Linked DNA regions of Homo sapiens: all the other regions are reported to be linked to region 1. Evidence: microRNA targets listed by miRTarBase, many of them from high-throughput screens and not tested one by one. Region 1 holds a microRNA gene; each other region holds the end of a gene's coding sequence.

The links. Region 1 holds the annotated microRNA hsa-miR-148b-3p (UCAGUGCAUCACAGAACUUUGU, at 1,937-1,958, opposite strand). A microRNA usually pairs through its seed, bases 2 to 8, with sites in the 3' UTR of a target mRNA and lowers its output. Matches are read on the target gene's strand: a 7mer-m8 pairs with bases 2 to 8, a 7mer-A1 pairs with bases 2 to 7 and ends in A, and an 8mer does both.
Region 2: miRTarBase lists LCN9 as a target of hsa-miR-148b-3p. The part of its 3' UTR that is shown has no 7-base or 8-base seed match.
Region 3: miRTarBase lists HEMGN as a target of hsa-miR-148b-3p. The part of its 3' UTR that is shown has no 7-base or 8-base seed match.

Annotation. Positions count from the first base shown.
Region 1 is chr12:54,335,981-54,339,235 of GRCh38, reverse strand. MIR148B (microRNA 148b) reads right to left here and starts at 2,020; the gene lies at 1,922-2,020. The region is part of intron 1 of COPZ1 (coat protein complex I subunit zeta 1); the gene reads right to left.
Region 2 is chr9:135,665,144-135,668,398 of GRCh38, reverse strand. LCN9 (lipocalin 9) reads right to left here. Exons shown (of 6, transcript NM_001393661.1): 4 at 3,044-3,154; 5 at 2,647-2,711; 6 at 1,438-2,538. The coding sequence ends at 2,656. Among named protein-coding and RNA genes, the nearest start is that of LCN9, 3.5 kb to the right of the region's middle. RefSeq lists enhancers at 700-1,200, 1,201-1,701.
Region 3 is chr9:97,924,630-97,927,884 of GRCh38, reverse strand. It overlaps HEMGN (hemogen), which reads left to right. Exons shown (of 4, transcript NM_197978.3): 4 at 407-1,094. The coding sequence ends at 501. Among named protein-coding and RNA genes, the nearest start is that of TRMO, 3.8 kb to the right of the region's middle.

The sequences.
Region 1 (3,255 bases):
TGTTCAGGCTGGTCTTGAACTCCTAGGCTCAAACAATCCTCCCACCTAGGCCTCCCAAAGTGCAAGTGTGAGCCACTGCGCCCGACCTACATTCCTTGACTTTCTAATCAACATTACTTACCATTGATATCCCTTGTGCTGAGACAAGGCTGTTGCTTTGCTACCTCTTTCCTGGCCTTATTTAAGAAACCCACAGTCCTCACAGGAGCCAAACACAAAAGTATGTGTTTGACAGATATCCAAGAGTGAGGAGGAAAAAATCATTGCCAAGAACCCAGAAACTGCAGCCTCTACAAACATAAATTGCCTCATGAGGCTTCAGGAGGTTTATGGTTCCATGCAAAGAATCAACCCTGTTTGCGGGGGCAGAGGAGGGCAGTTCAGAATGGAAGTAAAAGGAACCCAGTCTTTTGACAACAAGGTGATGAGGAACATAAGCTTTCCCTACTTGAATTCTTGAGGACTGCAATTTTTGTTTTGTTCGCTGGTTTGTCCCATTTGTCCAGAACAATGCCTGACACATACTAAACTCTCAATATTTGGTGAATAATTCAGAGAATAAAGGAAGTTTGAGAATAAAGTTAAAATACCTTGACGCAGTATGCATCTAAGGGACTACTTATAATTAGACCTCCACATATAAGTGGATTTTCTGATGTGGCCACTTTGGGTGATATTACTACCAACTTTATCCCTCCTCTGATAAACACTCCTTAGAGATGTCCATCCTGTATATATAACACTCTGGAATAAACAAGGCATGAGTAACTCCTCTCTCAAACTAAAGAACTTTGTTGCCTAGTGGAGGGAAGTCCTCTAGAGTCTAGTCTTAAAAGGTCACAAGTAGAAGCAGCTCTCCTAACTCCTAATTCCTCACAGAAAGATCTTCCTGTAAAGCAGGCTCAGTTCTATAACAACTTGGGTCCTCAATTCCAAAAGGGAGACAACAATGGGAATGAGTTTTCTTAATGGAAGAAAAGAAGTCCAAAAGGAACAAAATTTAGACGAAATCATTTTTTCCCACAACCTTTTCCTGGAAATCTTTGGCTCTGTTCCTCTATCCACATTCACAGCAACTTTAGAGAGCTGCCCATTAGTTTAAGCTGGGCATTAACCTGGCATAGGAAACTGGTTCTTGCAGCCATAGAGTTTGGCATCCCTAGAACCCAAAGAAAAGCAAAGCCCTAATGGCCCCCAGCCAACTGGGAGAGTCAGACAATGTCCTTTGTGGCCAACAGGGTGTGAGTGCCTACAACAGCCACACCGGCAAAGAGAGAACATATCCCTGGGTTCTGCTCTTGGTTCTTTTCACTGGCTTCCTAGAAGACATTATCAAAGAAACCCCAAAAATAGAAACATTGGATCTTCCTGGGAAGAATAAAAGACAGGCTAAGGAGGACAAGGATAAAGACTAGATTTGACATAGAGCTTACTGGAGCTCTCAAAAGGGAAAGAAGGCATTACAGAAAAGGCTGGTCATTTCAAACTTCCAAAGGAGGAAGCATACTAAATAAAGCTGAGAATTTAGGCAGGCGCTTAAATGCCGCTTCAATTCTCCATTCTGCTACAGCTGGAGCCAGCAGCTTCTTTACTTCTCCTGCCACCTCCTGACTGCAGCTGGTTCCACTTCAGCCTGGGGCTTTTACCTCTCAGGAGTGGGGAGGGCTATGCCATAAAACTAGCCAGTTTAAAGGCCCCAGAAGTCATTACTGATAATGTAATTTCATTTTAAGTTTTTGCAAAGGGCAAGTTTATAAATAACTCCCAGCTACTGAGAAATGGGCTTCCAGGACAATGGACTAGGCTTGACCTTGTAACACATTAAATGCTGACTGTTGAGAAAGACCTTATCAGCTTAGGGCCACACTGAAAGAATTTAAAAGGTCTATTCTTCCCTCCCACTCCCAAAATGGGTAGCTGCTAGAAAGCTTTCGAGACAAAGTTCTGTGATGCACTGACTTTCAGAGAGCCACAGCCTGAGTGTATAACAGAACTTCACCTCAAATGCTAATCGTGCTTGGAAATGATGTATAGGCAGATTGTTTTGTGGGAGATTGGGTGACTTAGACAGATTTTCATGTATTTATGTTTTTATTATCAAGAAAACAAGAATGCTGTCCTCAAGACAGGTGAAACACCACAGAACAAGCAACTAGGCTGCTGCAAATGAATCTTTGATCTCAGGGGCTTCTTTTTTTTTTTTTTTTTTTTTTTTTGCGACAGTCTCTCTCTGTCACCCAGGCTGGAGTGCAGTGGAGCAAACTCCGCTCACTACAACCTCCACCTCCCGGATTCAAGTGATTCTTGTGCCTCAGCCTCCCGGGTAGCTGGGACTACAGGCACACACCCCCATGCCCAGCTAATTTTTGTATTTTTAGTAGAGACGGGGTTTCACCAAATTGGCCAGGCTGGTCTCGAACTCCTGACCTCATGATCTGCCTGCCTCGGCCTCCCAAAGTGCTGGGATTACAGGCGTGAGCCACCGTGCCCGGCCTCAATCAGGGGCTTCTAAAGCCTGGTGAAAAGCATCAACATCTCCAAGAACTCTCTCCCCTAGCGCATAGAGGACTAGAGGGAAAGAGTCATTCCTAGTGCTGCCCCCTGTGGGCCTTCTCGGTGACCTGCAGCTTCCACAGGATTACAGTCATAAGCAAAAATATTTTTCAAAGGCAGCTCTGGATAAGAGCTTTTTTTTTTTTGAGACGGAGTCTCGCTCTGTCGCCCAGGCTGGAGTGCAGTGGCACGATCTCAGCTCACTGCAAGCTCCGCCTCCTGGTTCAAGCTCTCCTGCTTCAGCCTCCCGAGTAGCTGGGACTACACGCACCTGCCACCATGCCCGGCTAATTTTTTGTATTTTTAGTAGGGATGGGGTTTCACTGTAGCCAGGATGGTCTCAATCTCCTGACCTCGTGATCCGCCCGCCTCGGCCTCCCAAAGTGCTGGGATTACAGGCGTGAGCCACCGCACCCGGCAAAAGCTCTCTATTTGTGTGTCTTGTAGGACAAACTAGTAGAGATGGGCCCTGAAAAATAAGTGAATTAAGTCTGTTCACAATGTATATAGTAAGAGAACTCTTTGGGGTAAGATCTTAGTAAGCCACCAGAAGACTGGGAGAATATGTTTGGGGAAGGTAGAGAGGATACTTGGAAACTATAATGAATTATTTGATTCATTTAGGGGAAAAAACCAAGAAGCCTCTATGGAGGGAATTACAGGATGCCATCTACAGAGCTGAAAGAGCACAAATAAGAATAT
Region 2 (3,255 bases), not on the chromosome of region 1:
AATTAATTAATTAATTAATTAATTTGAGATGGAGTTTCACTCTTGTTGCCCAGGCTGGAGTGCGATGGCATGATTTTGGGTCACTGCAACTTCCATCTCCCACGTTCAAGCGATTCTCCTGCCTCAGCCCCCTAAGTAGCTGGGATTACAGGTGCCCGCCACCACACCTGGCTAATTTTTGTATTTTTTGTATAGGTGGGGTTTCACCATGTTGGCCGGGCTGGTCTCCAACTCCTGGCCTCAGGTGATCCACCTGCCTCGGCCTCCCAAAGTGCTGGGATTACAGGCATGAGCCACTGCACCCGGCCTCACTAGATTTTTATTTGACTGAGTGCCACCCCAAATGGAAACAACGAGGGTGGTCTCTTGGTTGTTCTTTCATGCCCTGCCCACTGCCCTGTTCCTTTGTCCACCTGAGGCCCCTGGTGTTGAGGCTGCAGGAGTCTGAGGCCAGGGCCAGCCTGGTGCTGAGCAGCTGATGGTGGGGTGGGTGCTGGGGACACTCAGCTCTGGTTCAGCTCCCCTTTGTGCTGTCTTCTGGGGTGGGGCTAAAGGCTTCTGCCTATGTCCACATCTACCCCCATGCCCAGGCCTCCTCTGGGGCCCAGAGGCTCCCCCTGCACCAATGGGCAGTGGCCTCCCAGCACCCCTTTCTGGCAGCCTTGGCTCTGCTCCTCCGAGGCCAGCTTTGTGCACCAACGGGCCCCGCCGAGTGGGCAGCTTCTCGCGTTCCCGCTGCAGCTCAGTAGGCTGGGCCCAGATCCAAACAAGGGGCCGGAAGCTGGGCAGCCATGGGAATGCCAGGTGCCTCCCACTCCCTCCCATCCCAATGGAGCTGCTCCTTCCCCAAGCCTGGCACCCATACAGCGGGCACTAAAACTCTACCCAGCCTCACCCTATAGCCTGGAGCTCCCAATGGAGGTGGGGTGGGGGGTGGCATCCAGACCCTCATCCTAAGACAGCTCCACTTAGCTCCTTTACAAGCAGGCACTGGCTCTGGGGACAGGTTCTTCCTGAGCACCCGGGACTGTGACCCACAGGATGACCCCTTGGAGAGCTCACGCAGACGCCAGAGTTGGGGCCGCCCAGCGCACACCCCCAGCACAGACGCTTCTGGGTCTCGGGCTGCAAAATGTTCTCCCCCGGGCAGGGGGCAGGGCCAGCGGCTCCTCAGACAGAGCCGCATTTTTGCTGCACGTGCAGGGTCATGTCCACCGCCAGGGTCACAGTGCAGGACGTTCCATCGTCACCAGGGCCCCTCCTGGTGCCCCTTTCTGGCTGACTTCCTACCTTCCATTTGTAACCTCTGGAAATCACCGACTCATGTCCCCCTCTGCGGTTTTGTGATTTCGAGAGCATCATACAAATGCAGTCGTTTTCACATCTCTGACAGAGGCCCAACCAACAATCACTTTTAACCCACAAAGTCACCGCAGATTGGCTGGTACCTCCCTTTTATTCACCAAAACATGGAGGCGGGGGCGCAGGCACCTGCCTCAGCTGTGACATTGTTGATCATCTTCCCCCAAAGGCAGTGGCTGAGCCCAGGGAGGGGACAGGAGGGGAGGGGCAGAGAGGGGAGGGACAGGGAGGGGAAGGTCAGCGAGGGGAGGGGCGGAGAGGGGAGGGGTAGGGCCTTGGTTGCCGGTTGCCATCTCATCTCACCCGCATCTTGGGGCCACCACGCACCACAGGTACATCCACTCCTTTACCCTCAGGAACCCTCGTGCAGAAATGCAGAGGTGCCTTCAGAGGCGTATCTCTGGGAGGCTCAGGCTCTGGGAAGGGAAGGGGGCCCTGGGGGTTTTTACTGGGCTGGGACCATGTCTGAGAAGGGAGGGGCAGCTCGGAGAAGGAGCCTGTGGTGACCTGAGTGGTGTCCCTCAAAGGACATGCTCCTTTCCTAGTGCCTGGAGCCTGTGAAGGGCATCTGATGGGAAAGGGTCTTTGCAGGTGTGAAGTTGAGGTCTTGACGGGAGATCATTCTGCATGAAGATGGGCCCGAAATCCAATGACAAGTGTCCTTAGAAGAGACAGAAGAGGAGACACAGACAGAGGCAGAGGCTGGAGTGACAGCCACAAGCCAGGGATGCCTGGAGCCCCCAGCAGCCGGAAGAGGCAGGAAGGACCCTTCCCGGGAGCTGGTGGAGGGAGCACAGCCCTGCGGACCTCGGGTTTCAGACCTCGGGCTCCAGGCTGTGAGAAAGTAAATCCTGGTTGTCCTAGTCACCCGCATATGGTGACATCAGCCCCTGGAGACTCACACAGGGCCCCATCTCACTTCCTGCTCAGACCTTACCACCCTGGAAGGCCCCATCACTGCCCCGACTCCAGGATGCTTTTCACAGCATCTTTCACCAAAGCACCTTGTGTTCGGTTCCCAGACCAGGGGGAGGGATGGGCACCTCCTGGGGTGGGACCCCGCAGCCTCTGACGTTGGCCCCAAGCTCTCCCCATCCAGCCCCCTGCCCGTCCCGAGTCGCAGCTCACGCATGGGAGGCCTGGGCGGGCTCCTGTAATGCTTGGAGTAGCAGGGATCTGGAAGGACAGAGGGGGCTCTCAGCGCAGGGACAGGGACCCCGCAGGCACACCTCCCATCCCCACCCTGTCCCGGCTCCCGCTTGGTCCGGGAGCAGTGGGGCTGACCTTTGTTGGTCAAGTCGATGATATTTTGTGAGCCAAGTCCGTACTTTTCGCAGGTTTCTTCAAATCTGCTCAGGAAGGAGGGTTCCAGCTATGGGACCCGTGCTGGGAACAGAGTTGGTTCTGTGTGAAGCTGGGCCTTGCTGGGGGTGCTCAGGAAGTGCTGAGGCTGGGCAGGGGGTCACGCCCTGACCAGAGAGGGGCTTTGTGCCAAGTGAGATGGGAGGTGACAGATTGAAGCACCCAGCACCCTAACGGTGTGTCTGTGGGAAGGAATAGCCAACGGGAACCACCTCTCCAAACCCCAGGGCCACTGCGAGACCCTCCTCCGCCCAGGGTTGGGCCGGACTTCAGAGGAGGTGGGGTCCCCGAGGGGGTCAGAGGGGGACAGCGGAGGTACCATAGAGCGCCAGCGTGTGGGTCTCGGTCCCGTTCCTGAAGTTCTGGAGGTGGAAGGTGATGAACAGCCTGTAGTCAGTCTCCGAGACGGCCACTGTGTTCTGGCCCTCATCTGCGTGGAGACATGGCTCAGCGTGGCCTGGCCCCGCCACCCTCAGGGTCCTGTGACACGTGCTGTGTGGCCGCAAGTGAGGATGGGGGGTCAAGTGGCCT
Region 3 (3,255 bases), not on the chromosome of region 1:
CCTGTTTGAATCCTTATCCCATTCAACATTTTTTATTTCTTTTTTCCGATTAAAAAACCTCTTTAAATAATAGTTTTTACTATGTATATGTTGCAAATATTTTTCCAGTTGTCTTTGATTTGGTTTAACTTTGTTTATAGTGGTTTTCACCATATATAATTTTACTTTTTAGGTATTCGAACTTGCTAGTCTTTTCCTTTATGGTTTCTGGTCTCTGTGTTCTGCTTAGCATCCTAAGATTACTAAAAACACTATTATTTCTATAACTTTATGGTATTTAAAAATTTACCCCATCTACGGTTTGTTGTTGTGTATGTTGTAAAGCAGTTTTTCTTCCTCCAAATGGAGAGTCAATTGTCCCAATACAATTTATTGAATCTATTTTTTATTTTATTTGATTTTACAGAAATGAAAGAAAAACCCAAAGAAGAGCCAGGAATACCAGCAATTCTGAATGAGAGTCATCCAGAAAATGATGTCTATAGTTATGTTTTGTTTTAACAATGCTCAACCATAAAGTTGTGGTCCAATGGAACATACAGCTTAATAGTTTATGCGTGATTTTCTCAAAATATTGTAAAACTTTTGACAATGCTCATTAATATTATTTTTTCTATTTGTAGACCATATCTGAAAGAAATAACATTTTTTAAGGCTCTACCACATAGACAATATCATGCTAGAATGTGTGTGTGTGTGTGTGTGTGTGTGTGTGTATGTATGTATAGGTCGGGGAGAGGATAGTGGTGGGAACAGACAAATAAGGAAGCGGGGAGGACTGGATAATTGGTTTTCCCCCCTAAGAACATTTATTTACGTCTTAAGAGCAGATAAGTGACTAAGACTGAACACATACATTTTGTGGAGTATATAGTTTTCTTGTAAATGCTGTTCAATTATTAATGTAACAGTAGCATCAAAATTTTATTCAGGCTTTAGTTGACTCTTTTGGTCAGTTTTAACAATTCTCCTTAAAAGATATTTTGGAGTGATGAATGTAGTTTACTTTTGTATTTGAATTTTGATTTTCTATTTTTATTTTTTAAATATTGTATTTGTGCACAATGTACATTAAATCATTATTACATGCTTAACTGTGTGGATACCATCATGTTAAGAATTGCGGAGGTTAGAAGACCTATCTAACACCCCACGGTGGGGTTAATTTGGTTTCATGGGGAAATAAAACAGAAAACAAATAATCACAAAAGAAAATAGTAAGGGCTGGTGCCATTTGAATGGTAGATACAAACAGAGAATGCTCACTTTTTGCTGGAGTGACCTGAAAAAATTACACAGGCATGAAGCCTTGAAAGACGGAAAGTATTTGCATAGATGAGGATAGCAGCATTACTGTATGTGACAAAGAGAAGGGTGAGTTCAAAACATGTTCAAGAGAACTGCAGGCAAACTATGGTTAATGTAGAGTCCATATGAAATAGTAGTAGGCTTGCATGCTGAAAAGCTCATATTACTAGAGCATAGAATATTTTGCTTACCTAACCAAGAAATATATCACTTGTTAAAAATGGGGAATGAAGTCAGATTTTTGAACAATGGAATGGCAATTTCACTATTTTAGGAATATGGTAAATATGGTGATAATGGTAAAGATTAACTGAAAACGACAAGAGACCGGGGCAGGAATAGAAGCTGTTCTGGATGGGAAGATGTCTGAAAATCTACCCTGGTATTTTTTGTTTTCACTTTTCCTTCTGTTATTACAGAGGACTAAGGATATTTTTGCAAATAAAGTTTCATTCAGCAAGAACACACTTGCACAAGCTTTCCATATAGACACTGTGCTAGGTACTAGCTATATCAAAGAACAAGACAGGGTCACAGTCCCTCAGGCATTCATGGTATAATGAACATGAGAGAGCAGTGGTTCTTTCAACCCTTCTGGTACATTAGACTCACCTGGGAAGGTTTCAAAAATACATATATGTCCAGACTTCTCCCCCAGGGATTCAGATTCCCCCATCTAGCTGATGTACAGGCATAGGTATATTTATTTTTTAATTGTTTTATGCTTCAAATAATAGTTTTTGGAGGAATAATTTTAGAATTACAGAAAAGTTGTCATGATAGTACAAAAGTTACTATATACCTTTCGCCCAGTTTACACCAATGTTAACGTCTTACATAACCATGGGCCATTTGTCAAAACTAAGAAATCAGGATAGTTACACTACCATTAACTACAGACATTATTCCGTTTTCATGAATTTTTCCACTAATGTGCTTTGTCTGCTTCAGGGTCCAATCCAGGATATAGAATTGCATTTAGGATGTTTTTATTTTAAAAGCTCTCCTGACAATCCTAAAGTGGAGGTAGGGTTGAGAACCAATAGTACAGTGGGATGTTACAATATTGTTTCCCTCCTATCTGCCTACCCCCTTTTGTGTGTACATTAAATTTTTTACCATCAGGATGTATTCATTGCACAATTATTCATACCCCTATTATATTTATTACACAACATACTGAGGGCAGGGCAGCACAACCACATAATAGTTTCGTCTCTTTTTTTTTTTTTTTTTTTTGAGACGGAGTCTCACTCTGTCGCCCAGGCTGGAGTGCAGTGGCACCATCTCGGCTCACTGCAAGCTCCGCCTCCTGGGTTCACGACATTCTCCTGCCTCAGCCTCCCGACTAGCTGGGACTACAGGCGCCCGCCACCACGCTTGGCTATTTTTTTTTTTTTTTTGTATTTTTAGTAGACGGGGTTTCACCATGTTAGCCAGGATGGTCTCAATCTCCTGACCTCGTGATCCTCCTCGGCCTCCCAAAGTGCTGGGATTACAGGAGTGAGCCACCGCGCCCGGCCACAACCATATAATAGTTTCTTACCTCTCAATGACACTTCAACATTTATACTTTCACATAAACTATTTTATTTGATCTGTACAAAAGTATGTGAAATAGGCCAGGCGGTGATTATCACTCTCACTTAAAGATGAGGGAATAACATAGAGGGAAGGTACTCACCCAAAGTCACATCTGACTTCCTCAGTGCTTTTTTTTCTTCTTTGGAATGTGCTTCTGTCTCAATTTCACCTGCCAGAGTGGGCCAAAATTAGAGGAAAAAAAAGAGTAAACTGAAGTCTCAAGTTCTAACAGCGTTGCATTAAGATGGACCTTAAGAGATTTGCATACGTACAGTGCACAGGAGCACAAAGATGAGATGGGGAAGGAGAGGGAAAGAGGAATGCAGTACATTAGAGGAAGCAGAATTTCTCTCTCCACCTCTC